2 separate regions of the Homo sapiens genome follow, and region 1 is linked to region 2. Evidence: fine-mapped expression QTL. A gene starts in region 2. The other region holds a variant in brackets. All regions are shown on one strand. Distances are from middle to middle.

The links. PIP is the estimated chance that this variant, and not a neighbour inherited with it, causes the effect. A credible set is the group of variants that fine-mapping cannot tell apart.
Region 1: its variant is the best candidate, but not a certain one, in a credible set for the expression of L3MBTL2-AS1 in esophagus mucosa (GTEx, PIP 0.68).

The regions. Positions count from the first base shown.
Region 1 is chr22:41,171,017-41,176,349 of GRCh38, reverse strand. EP300 (EP300 lysine acetyltransferase) reads right to left here. Exons shown (of 31, transcript NM_001429.4): 28 at 3,687-3,851; 29 at 2,566-2,727; 30 at 1-103. Among named protein-coding and RNA genes, the nearest start is that of EP300-AS1, 24 kb to the left of the region's middle. The variant A/G (reference allele first, on the strand shown) is at 2,283.
Region 2 is chr22:41,215,069-41,220,442 of GRCh38, reverse strand. L3MBTL2-AS1 (L3MBTL2 antisense RNA 1) reads left to right here and starts at 2,816. Exons shown (of 3, transcript NR_148200.1): 1 at 2,816-3,411. L3MBTL2 (L3MBTL histone methyl-lysine binding protein 2) reads right to left here. Exons shown (of 17, transcript NM_031488.5): 4 at 4,181-4,304; 5 at 3,241-3,320; 6 at 907-1,024. RefSeq lists enhancers at 1,248-1,944, 1,945-2,642.

The DNA of each region.
Region 1 (5,333 bases), 44 kb after region 2:
CCCGACCATCCATCAGATCGCAGGGGATGAGAGGATCAGGATCAACAATGGGAGGCAGGGAGTTGGCAGCAGGGCCAGCAATGAGGCGGATCACAAAGAAGACCTGAAAAACAGACAGTCTCTTTTTTTTGAGACAGGGCCTCGCTCTGTCATCCAGGCTGGAATGCAGTGGCGTGATCTTGGCTCACTACAACCTCTGCCTCCTGGGCTCAAGCAATTATCCCACCATGGCCTCCTGAATAGCTGAGACCACAGGCCCACACCACCACACCTGGCTAATTTCTGCATTTTTTGTAGAGACGAGGCTTCGCCATGTTGCCCAGGCTGGTCTCAAACTCCTAAGCTCAAGTGATCTGCCTGCCTCAGCCTCCCAGAGTGCTGGGATTACAGGTGTGAGCAGGTACAGCAGGCTGAGCACCAATGAGACTGGCGAATGCTGAGTTAGTTTCACCACCATACGCCTCCTGTTCCTTTTCCTGCTTTACCTCTTTGGTCTCTTGAGACTGACTATAAATAGAACTGAAATGCACATCCTGTGATTTTTTTCTCCTTCATTCAGTAACTCCTTCAGAGTAACAATGGTCTGGGTGAGGTATAGCACCATGCACAGTGGACATTTTGCCTCAAGGCAGTCTACTTTAAGATGCAATCCATGGTTTAACCTCAATCTAATTACAACAAACCAGACAAATCCAAATATGGAGACAGTATGAAAAACAACTGGCCTGGACTCATGAAGGTCCCCTATGCAACTTTCCTGTGTAACTTTTCCTACAGGTTTGGAAGGGAATGGAATGGATAAAAAATCTTAGTCTTTGTTGACAAAGCAATAAAATTCTTGTTCATTGAAGTTTGAAAAAACTTGTAACAACCATCAATTCTCATAACCATTAGTGTAAAAGGTATAAAAAGCTGGTATTACATATGTATTTGACATTAATTAGTATATAACTATAAACACCTATTAAAGTAATAAAATGTAAAACATCCCCTTAAGAAATTAGGAACTTGTGAGAAACTGCTGTACTGATAACAGATTATTCAACATCTGTGCACACTGGCAGCCACACTCACAGTCTCTGGCCAGCAATGTTCGCTGCTTCTGTCACCCTACAACCAGGCCAATACTTGGATTTACAACCTAAATTTAAACAGCCATGGAATGTGTCCACAATTTAAGTCAAACCTATTACAATATATTCTAAGGGCTTTTCCCAACTGCCTAGGATTCTGTGGCATTACTTACTGCTTGAAATAGCTAGTAACTATTAATTGTTAATAATCATTACCTAACGTATTAGAACTCAGGAATCCTTCCATTTCACTAGCATGGCTGAGATAATGGTTATTACCATTATTACATCGTAGCCCATTATTCTAGGCTAACAAAAAAGGGGTGGTGATGGGGGGAGCAGTGGGGGAAAAGATACTTTGAACACCTATGTATATAGGTGTTCACCATGATAACATCATTATAACAAATTCCTCTCTAAAAAAGATTTTGTTAACTATTTCTCTCCCAAAGAGACTGTTTAACCAATTTTTAGGTACGGAATTACAACCTGAAATCAAGCCTTCATTTCCCTCTCAACTTAATTACCACTTCCTATAAGAACTTGATTATATGTCTGAGAACCGAGATAGTAAAATGAGGAGTCTGACTGAACAATCGAGATTACTACCATTGGACAAACCCTGAGAGGAATTACTCTTCAATTCTCCTGGCTTTCGTTATCAATTATATGATATTAAAGAGAGAAAAAAAAAACCTTACCCAGTTATTTTCCCAAATGACTGCAAGAACAACTAAACAATGTAAATGATGAAATAACTCAAAAAGTTTTGAGAAGGGGGTTGTAAGTCCATATGTGGAAGTTTAACTTTTCTCCAATTCTATTTACTAATTCACTTTCAGAAAGGTTAAATCTTTTTATTTTTTGAAACAGAGTCTCGTTCTGTCACCCAGGCTGTAAGTGCACTGCAACCTCTGCCTCCCAGGTTCAAGTGATCCTCCCACCCCAGCATCCCAAGGATTACAGGTGTGTGCCACCACGCCAGGCTAATTTTTGTATTTTTAGTAGAGACGGGGTTTCGGTTCGCCATGTTGGCCAGGCTGGTCTCCAACTCCTGACCTCAAGTGATCCGCCTGCCTCAACCTCCAAAGTGCTGGGATTACAGGCATGAGCCACCACGCCCAGCGAACAGTCAGTGTTTTTATTCATTTCTTATTTCTTTTTCTGAGGTGGAGTTTCGCTCTTGTTGCCCAGGCTGGAGTGCAATGG[A/G]GTGACCTCGGCTCACTGCAATCTCCGCTTCTCAGGTTCAAGCAATTCTCCTGCCTCAGCCTCCTGAGTAGCTGGGATTACAGGCATGTGCCACCATGCCCAGCTAATTTTGTATTTTTAGTAGAGCAAGGTTTCACCGTGTTGGTCAGGCTGGTCTTGAACTCCTGACCTCAGGTGATCCACCCGCCTTGGCCTCCCAAAGTGCTGGGATTACAGGTGTGAGCCACCATGCCTGGCCAGAAATCTTGCCGTTTTTCCCCAACTCTGGGTGGCTGCATCTTACCTCTTTATGCTTCTCCATGGTGGCATATAGTTTCTGTGAGAGGTCGTTAGATACATTGGGCATCCCGGGTTTCTTCTTGTTGCCCCTACTCAGGCTGCTCTTATTTTTGCTGGTTTTCTTATTATTCTTCTTTTTAGCATTTTTGCTGTCTCCCTTGGTCACCTGCAGAGTAGCACAAAGGAGACAAGAAAATAAGGTTTTTGTTAAGTAATTTGGGAATAGCACAGAATATCTCCCTTCTTTGAAACTAGATATCATAATCTTATGCCTGTAACTTATTTTACTAGCTGTTCTCTTCACTTATTCTTTCTCCTTAAAGTTGTTATTTGACCTAATTTTCTCCCAGTGATCTTTAAGGCAATGGCAGCCCTTTAGCTTTTTGCCTAGAAGAGGCCACAGAATGTGCAGACCCTGTAGATTGATTGAATGTATCCCAGATTGGGGCTAGGGAACAAGGAAGGGGTGGCACTTTGGGGTAGTGAAGAGTGTATCAAAGTGGGGAGCCAGAAGACCTTGGTTTTATTTCCTTCCACTCATATTCTAAAATGTTATGAGCCTACAAATACTAAATGACAAGGCTGTAAGAGTTTGTTAACAGACTATTTAAGGGTGCCTTTTGTTAAGTTAAATTCAATGGAGGTAATTCGAGATATGCTATGGGGAAATAACTGGTGAGGTTACTAAGCCAGGCTTAGTAACTTAAATTCTGGCTCAGGCCTATTTTGTATAGCTAAGAATGGTTTTTTACATTTAAAAAGAGTGTGTTTTTAAAAGACAGAAAATATGCCAGAGATATGTGACCCACAAGGCCTATAATATTCATAACCTAGTCCTTCAGATAAGTAATCTTCTATCAGTTTTTCAGGATTTCCTTCAGTTTCTTTTATCATTTCACATTACTCAAAGTCTGAGATGCCATTTTAAAAGGGGCTCTGATGCTTTAAAAGTTTAATACCACTGAAACAGAACCCTAATAACCTCTCTAAGCCAATATTTCTTGTCCAACTTAAAGAGCTCTTTTACACCTGAAAGCTTTAAAACCCAATTGAAAGTTTAAGTGCACTTCTGGATTAAATATTAGAATCATGATAGAAGTTTCAAAGGAAACTCAATGCCCTTACATCTGTGCTTTCATTGCTGGTGTTTTCCTCTCGTTTTCTCTCTTCTTCCTCCTGTTCCAGTTCCTTAATGCTTTCTTCCAGAACATTGGGCCAGAAATCACCCTCGAAATAAGGCAATTCCTTTGCACTTGTTAATCTATCTTCAGTAGCTTGTTTAAAAATATCCTGTGAAAACATGCATGTACATATAGGAATTTCTATGTTCTTTTAAAGCATTGATTATACAGAATAATCATGGCTGACAAGAAACATGAAAGCTTAAAATGTCTTGAAAGCTGGCAGAGACTTTATACCTAAGCCGTAAGCCAGGGAGTATTTAGAAAAATAAATAGTGAAAAGGCCTGGCCTAAAGTCAATATTTCCGGTTTTCTATTTCTTCTACCCACAAAAACAGGGAGCTTATCTGCCTTTATATAACCAAGTGGCAATTATCCTGCCAGGATCAACGTCAGGGTGGTAGCACCATCATGCATGCCATGGCCCCTACCACTCCTTATCACAGAATATGTGGTATGAAGCATGCCCTCCTCACACCCATCCTTGGAATTTCAGCAGCTTTTACTGACAGCTTTGTTCAAAATGACCAAAACTACAAATACTGGAAATAGTATCTGCTGCAGAATGATTTGCTGGGCTGCTTAGGAAAACTTCTTTATTTAGTTGAACTACTAAATTGAGGAAGACAAGTCTGTATCATGAGACAACCTATATTTATGAATAACATAATACTGTTAATTAAGAATATATTTTTGGCCAGGTGCAGTGACTCACACCTGTAATCCCAGCACTTTGGGAGGCCGAGGCAGGTGGATCACCTGAGGTCAGGAGTTCGAGACCAGCCTGACCAATGTGGAGAAACCCCGTCTCTACTAAAAATAGAAAAAATTAGCCTGGCTTGGTGGTGCATGCCTGTAATCCCAGCTACTCGGGAGGCTGAGGTAGGACCATCACTTGAACCCAGGAGACTGCACCATTGCACTCCAGCCTGAAACTCCGTCCAAAAAAAAAAAAGGGAGAATATATTTTTGGCTGGGTGATGTGGCTCATGCCTATAATCCTAGCACTTTGGGAGGCTGAGGTGGGCAGATCACTTGAGCTCAGGAGTTTGAGACCAGCCTGGGCAACATGGTGACATCCTGTCTCTACAAAAAATATACAAAAATCAGCTAGCTCTCGTAGTGTGCACCTAGTCCCAGCAACTCAGGAAGCTGAGATGGGAGGATGGCTTGAGCCTGGGAGGCACAGGTTGCAATGAGCGGGTATCATGCCACTGCACCCTAGCCTGGGTGACAGAGAGTGACCCTTTCTGAAAACAAAACACCCACACCCCTAAAACCCTAACCAACCCAAACCAAACCAACAAAAAACCAAAACAAAAAGATATATTTTAAGGCCGGGCACAGTGGCTCATGCCTGTAATCCCAGCACTTTGGAATGCTTGAGGCCAAGAGTTCAAGTCCAGCCTGGGCAGCATGGCGATACCCCAACTCTATCCCCACCCTCCCCCCAAAAATAAATAAAATAAAATTTTGGTTACATGTTTAAAACAGGGATTTCTTGATCTACCGCTCTTCAAAACCTGGTTTTTCTTATATTGAAAAATTTTGAATATACAAAATAAAAGCAATCAAATTAGCATTTTTAGGA
Region 2 (5,374 bases):
GTGCTGGGATTACAGGCGTGAGCCACCGGGCCTAGCTTGGGGAAGGTATGTTCTTAAGCCTTCTCTTTTCTCTAGCCTAAGCTGGACTTCTGGCACCTATACTTCCAGGCAAGTGGATTCCTGTTGTCCACAACAGTCCTAGCCAAACAAATTCATGCTCCTAGTTCGGAAAGCATTATGGAATGGTGCTGAGAGTTAATTCTCTATAACCTGATCATCCTTGGAATGAATTTTACTTTTTAAATTTTTTCATTTTTTATAGAGACAGTATCTCACTATATTGCCCCGTCTGGTCTCGAACTCCTGAGCTCAAACAATCCTCCTGCCTCTGCCTCCAAAGTGCTGGGATTAGAGGTGTGAGCCACGAAACCTGGCCCTGGAACAAACTTTAAAAATTGGGGTTTCCAGCCAGGCACGGTGGCTCACGCCTATAATCCCAGCACTTTGGGATGCAGAGGATCACCTGAGGTCAGGAGTTTGAGACCAGCCTGGCCAAGATAGTGAAACCCCGTCTCTACTAAAAATACAAACATTAGCCGTGTGTGGTGGCCAGGTGGCCTGTAGTCCCAGCTATTCGGGAGGCTGAGGCAGGAGAATCGCTTGAACCCAGGAGGTGGAGGTTGCAGTGAGCCGAGATCGTGCCACCGTACTCCAGCCTGGGTGACAGAGCAAGACACCATCTAAAAAAAACAAAATAACAAAAACAAACAAAAAAATTTGGGGTTTCCAAGCCTGCCAAGCTCTGTGTTCCCTTCTCCGGTAAAAGAATCCTTAGAAGTGGGGCAAAAATTCCAGTGGGTGGGATTTTTGTTTTATGAAGCCAACTCCTGCCTACAACACTGTTCACCCATCTAGAGATGTCACTCTGCAGACACATCCCTGGCCCTGCCCTGGCCAAACACTCACCTGCTGTCTGGATGACAGAGGCGATCCAGTACACCCGGCTGGGGAGCACAGCATCACTGTTGAGCACCTCCACCTTCATCCCTTTCATCACATCCTCCCACTGGTCATAGAGTGGGACCTGTGTGGCGATGAGAGTGTACCGAGAGAGTGAGCTAACTGTGCTAGCAGGGGAGACAGACTGCCTCACGGCCTCAGTCAAGTCCTCGTTTGCACCTCAACTTTTCACATCACCCACTGTGTGCAGAACCAGCTACTAGAGATAAAGAGATGAGGTCTCCTGTCCTTGAAGAGCTAAGCCGGGAGTAGAGGTGGAGGTGGTGGGATGCAGGGTGATGGCTAGAGACCCAGAGTCAGACAGAACCGAGTCCTAAAATCTTTATAGGACTGGTTTCTTACTGTATCATTTTGGGCACATGATGCCTTGGTGAGCCTCGATCCCTTCGTCCCTGTGCCAGCCCGAGCAATGGCAGGGCGCTGATATTAGCACAAATATACTTTCCTTCAATCATCATACAAACCTGGGCTGTGGGCATTATGACCCCCTTGTTTACACACAGCCATCCACCTGCAAGTTTACTCTCTACCTCCCCTCCTACTGAAATGCTCCAGGGGGCCAGGCATGGTGGCTCACGCCTGTAATCCCAGCACTTTGGGAGGCCGAGACGGGCGGATCACCTGAGGCTGGGAGTTCGAGACCAGCCTGACCAACATGGAGAATCCATGTCTCTACTAAAAATACAAAATTAGCCGGGCGTGGTGGTGGCACATGCCTGTAATCCCAGCTACTCCGGAGGCTGAGGCAGGAGAATCGCTTGAACCTGGGAGGGGGAGGCTGCTGTGAGCTGAGATAGTGCCATTGCACTCCAGCTCTGGGCAACAAGAGTGAAACTCCCATATCGAAAAAATAAATAAAATAAAATAAAGTGCCCCAGGACAGCACTGGACTGTTTCAGTTGCCTTCCCAGTACCTAATCCTCACTTTCCTGCCAATGGTACTTTTGATTCTCCTTTGGGAGAATCACTTTTTTTAGAGTCTTGCTCCGTCACCCAGGCTGGAGTGCAGTGGCGCAATCTCAGCTCATTACAACCTCCGCCTCTCAGGTTCAAGGGATTCTCCTGTCTCGGCCTCCCAAGTAGCTGGGATTACAGGTGCCTGCCACCACTTCCAGCTAATTTTTGTATTTTTAGTAGAGATGGGGTTTCACCATGTTGGCCAGGCTGGTCTCGAACTCCTCACCTCAGGTGATCCACCCGCCTCGGCCTCCCAAAGTGCTGGGATTATAGGGGTAAGCCACTGCGCCTGGCCAAATTCACCTTTTTTATTCTCAGCCCTGGCTTCAGCCAGTTGAGGTATCCCATTCCATCTCCCTGGTCACTTGAGTTTAGTTCATCACAGAACCCGGACACAGTTGCGCTAGCCCAGGCACGCAGGGGCAGGCTTTTTACAAAGCAAATTGGATTATATGTGTTAGACACAAGGATGATGCAACTCCCTGGAAATGAAAATGCTGAAACTATTAGAGAATTCAGGGCAAAAAAGAGGCTCCCCCTCCAGCAGGAAGGAGGTGCACCTTCATTAGCCATTCAGAGACGAGAGGAGTGAGTTAGCTGAGTCAAGAAGCAGCTGTCATTGTTCAGGGCACTCCCCAGAGTTCAGTGGCAGTTCTGAAAGGAGGAGAGGAAGTGGCTTACTCTGGGTAAAAGACTCCCTACTTCCTCAAGACTAAAGAGGCCTCCTCCTGGATTTCCCGGAGCTTAGGGACGTGGTGTGAAGACAAAACAAGAGTGCTGTTGTGGGCTCTGCTCTCCCGGCCTGCAGGCTCCACACGTCACAGCTGCTGGATATTCGGTTCTTGCGCTCAAGCCCCGCCCCTAAGGGCCTTGCCCTTCGTTCTGGCTTTTACATGATCCGCATCGAGGAGCCTTTTACAGAAGTGGCTCCAGGAGCATCCACATCTGCCTCTCGGGGCCCACGGGGCCCAGGCCAGCTACAGAAGCACCCTGCTTTCCATGGGAAAATGCTGCAAATGGGGGAGAAAGGAGAGAAGGGTTTCAGACTGCAAAGACCCTTCGACATCAGCTAGCACCAAGTTCCATCATGTAAATAAACTGAAGGGCTTCAGACCGGGAGTGAAGCCAAGCAGGTGATAGAAGTGTTTGTAGGAGGATTTTTTTGACATAAACATGAAATGGAGCGAGTGGTAACGCCATCCGTCTCCTGCCCAGACCTCCCCACTGTCACTGTCCAGCCTGAAGCCGCCCTGGTGAAGCAGGTGGAGGAGCAGCTCCAGGCCCGGCTCCCCGGCCTCCCTCCCTCAGCTCCAGGGCACTCACGTGCTTGAAACAGCTGACGGGAGCAGCCTTGTAACTGTGATCCTTCAGGAACTTCCCCCAGTCGAAGCCCAAGACCAGAGCTGCAGAGCAGAGAGGACGAGTCAGACTAGGAGCCTGCGCAGCAGCCACTCCAGGAGCCTGGACCCCAAGGGCCCTGTGGGACCTGCAGAGGTAGGTCCCCCACCCCCAGCAGCCCCTCTCACAGCGCTGCCCACGACACCCTCCTTCACTCCCATACCTGATCCACCAGTGGCCATGAGGGACCACTGTTGAGGACTGAATTGAAAGGTGGCAAGACTCTCAGGAGTAGAGGAACATTCAAAGGGAAATTTCTCGCCCTTCTTCCCCCAAAGGGGAAAACTGAAATATCCCTGGGCTTAAATTCCTCCCTCCGCCCTGAACCTGATTGGCCACACCCAATCTAAATGTGGGGGAGGGGGTGCGCACACACCAGGGCCCCTCCAACTGAGCTCCGGCCTGCTGAGCTCAATTTCAGTTAGAAACTCAGAACAATGATAGCAGAGTTGCTTTATGCATACATTTAACTTGCTTAGCAATTGCTACACACTCAGAGAGAGGCTCCTTTCCTTATCCCACCACCCCTCTCCAAACCTGCCTTCAAACCATATCTGGGCCTTCGTTGCCCCAGGGAAACAGAAACCAAAAGGATAAAAGCAAAGAGAAACAAAAACAGCCAATTCTTGGCTTTTGAATTATCATGGGTAGGAGTCCTGATAATTTAAGGGTGTTTGAAGGCATTTTTCTGGGTAATTTCCACAATACCCAACAGGTGAGGAAGATGCAATCCGCAGTGACCCTGACTTAGGGCACTTTCTACCTGGCCGGTTTGCCCAGTCTTCATTCCTAGGAAAGGCCACCCCAAACCCAGTCTCCTCCCCAGCCACGGCAGCTTCCTAAGCAGGGCCCTCTGCTATCTTACCGTCTTGTCCTGTTGGTGTCCCATCTGCCAGCTGTCCTGTCCCTTGAGAGTGGAGGAAGGCTCCAATTTTGGCAGACCAGGCAGCCTTGTGCAGGACTTTGGCTTTTTTGGTCGGTGGTTTTCCCTGGAGAGGAGGACAGAGGCTATGTGTAGCCTGGCGGCTGGGATCATGAGTCTGGATTTGGGCCGCCAAGTTGAAGTCCTGGGCTTGGGCCAGTGACTTAACCTCTTTTGGGCTTCAGTTTCTTCATGTGTGAAACAGTGATGACAATAACAATCCTGAGCTCAGGGGGTGGTTGTGGGGAAGCGTCGGGGGTGCTAGGGGGTGCTAGGCAGTGCTGCAGAGCAGGGAGAGACCCATGTTCTATCTTTTAAGCCTTTCTGTCCTCCCAGATTCAAGTCTCAGTCATCTCCTTCCTCCAGTGTCGCTACTGATAGATCCAAAGCAAAGAATGGGCCTCACAGGGGCCCAGAAACGCTCATGAACTGGGAGGCAACCTTCTGTACATACGCGAATGTTTGGGAGAGGGTCCACATAGGCGAATGTTCGGGAGAGGGTCCACATAGGCGAATGTTCGGGAGAGGGTCCACATAGGCGAATGTTCGGGAGAGGGTCCACATAGGCGAATGTTTGGGAGAGGACCCACAGCTTTCATTAGGTACTCAAAGGGGGTCCTCCCTTTCCAAAGGGAATGGCCACTGATCTGGTCTGTATTTTGTAACTTAAGTACTGAACAGGAAGGCCAGGAATTTACTAAAGAGATCAGTGAAGCAGAAATCTGGGTTTAAGTCCCAAACAAACCTACAGGGCAAATCCCAGTTCTACAGTTTTTAGTTGTATACCTTTAAGTAAGTTACTAAAATTTCTGAGCCTTTATAAAAAGGAATTTTTTTAAAAATCAAATTTTTTAAGATCGTTAATTGGACTGAGAATGTCAAGCCCTTAGCAAGTACTCCCAAACCATAGCTATTAATATTACCAATATTATTCTTAGCTCTCGGAAGAGAGGGATCTTTCGGTGCCTTAAGTAAAATCTACAAAATGGGGAAACAATGGTAATTGTCTCACAAAGGCGACAGTGTATGAAGCAGTAAGCAGAAGGATCTGGGACACAGCAATTTCTAATAAACATCGGTGGTGCTCAAACTTCGCTGCACATTAGGATCACCTGGGAGCTCTTCCAATCTCTGTCC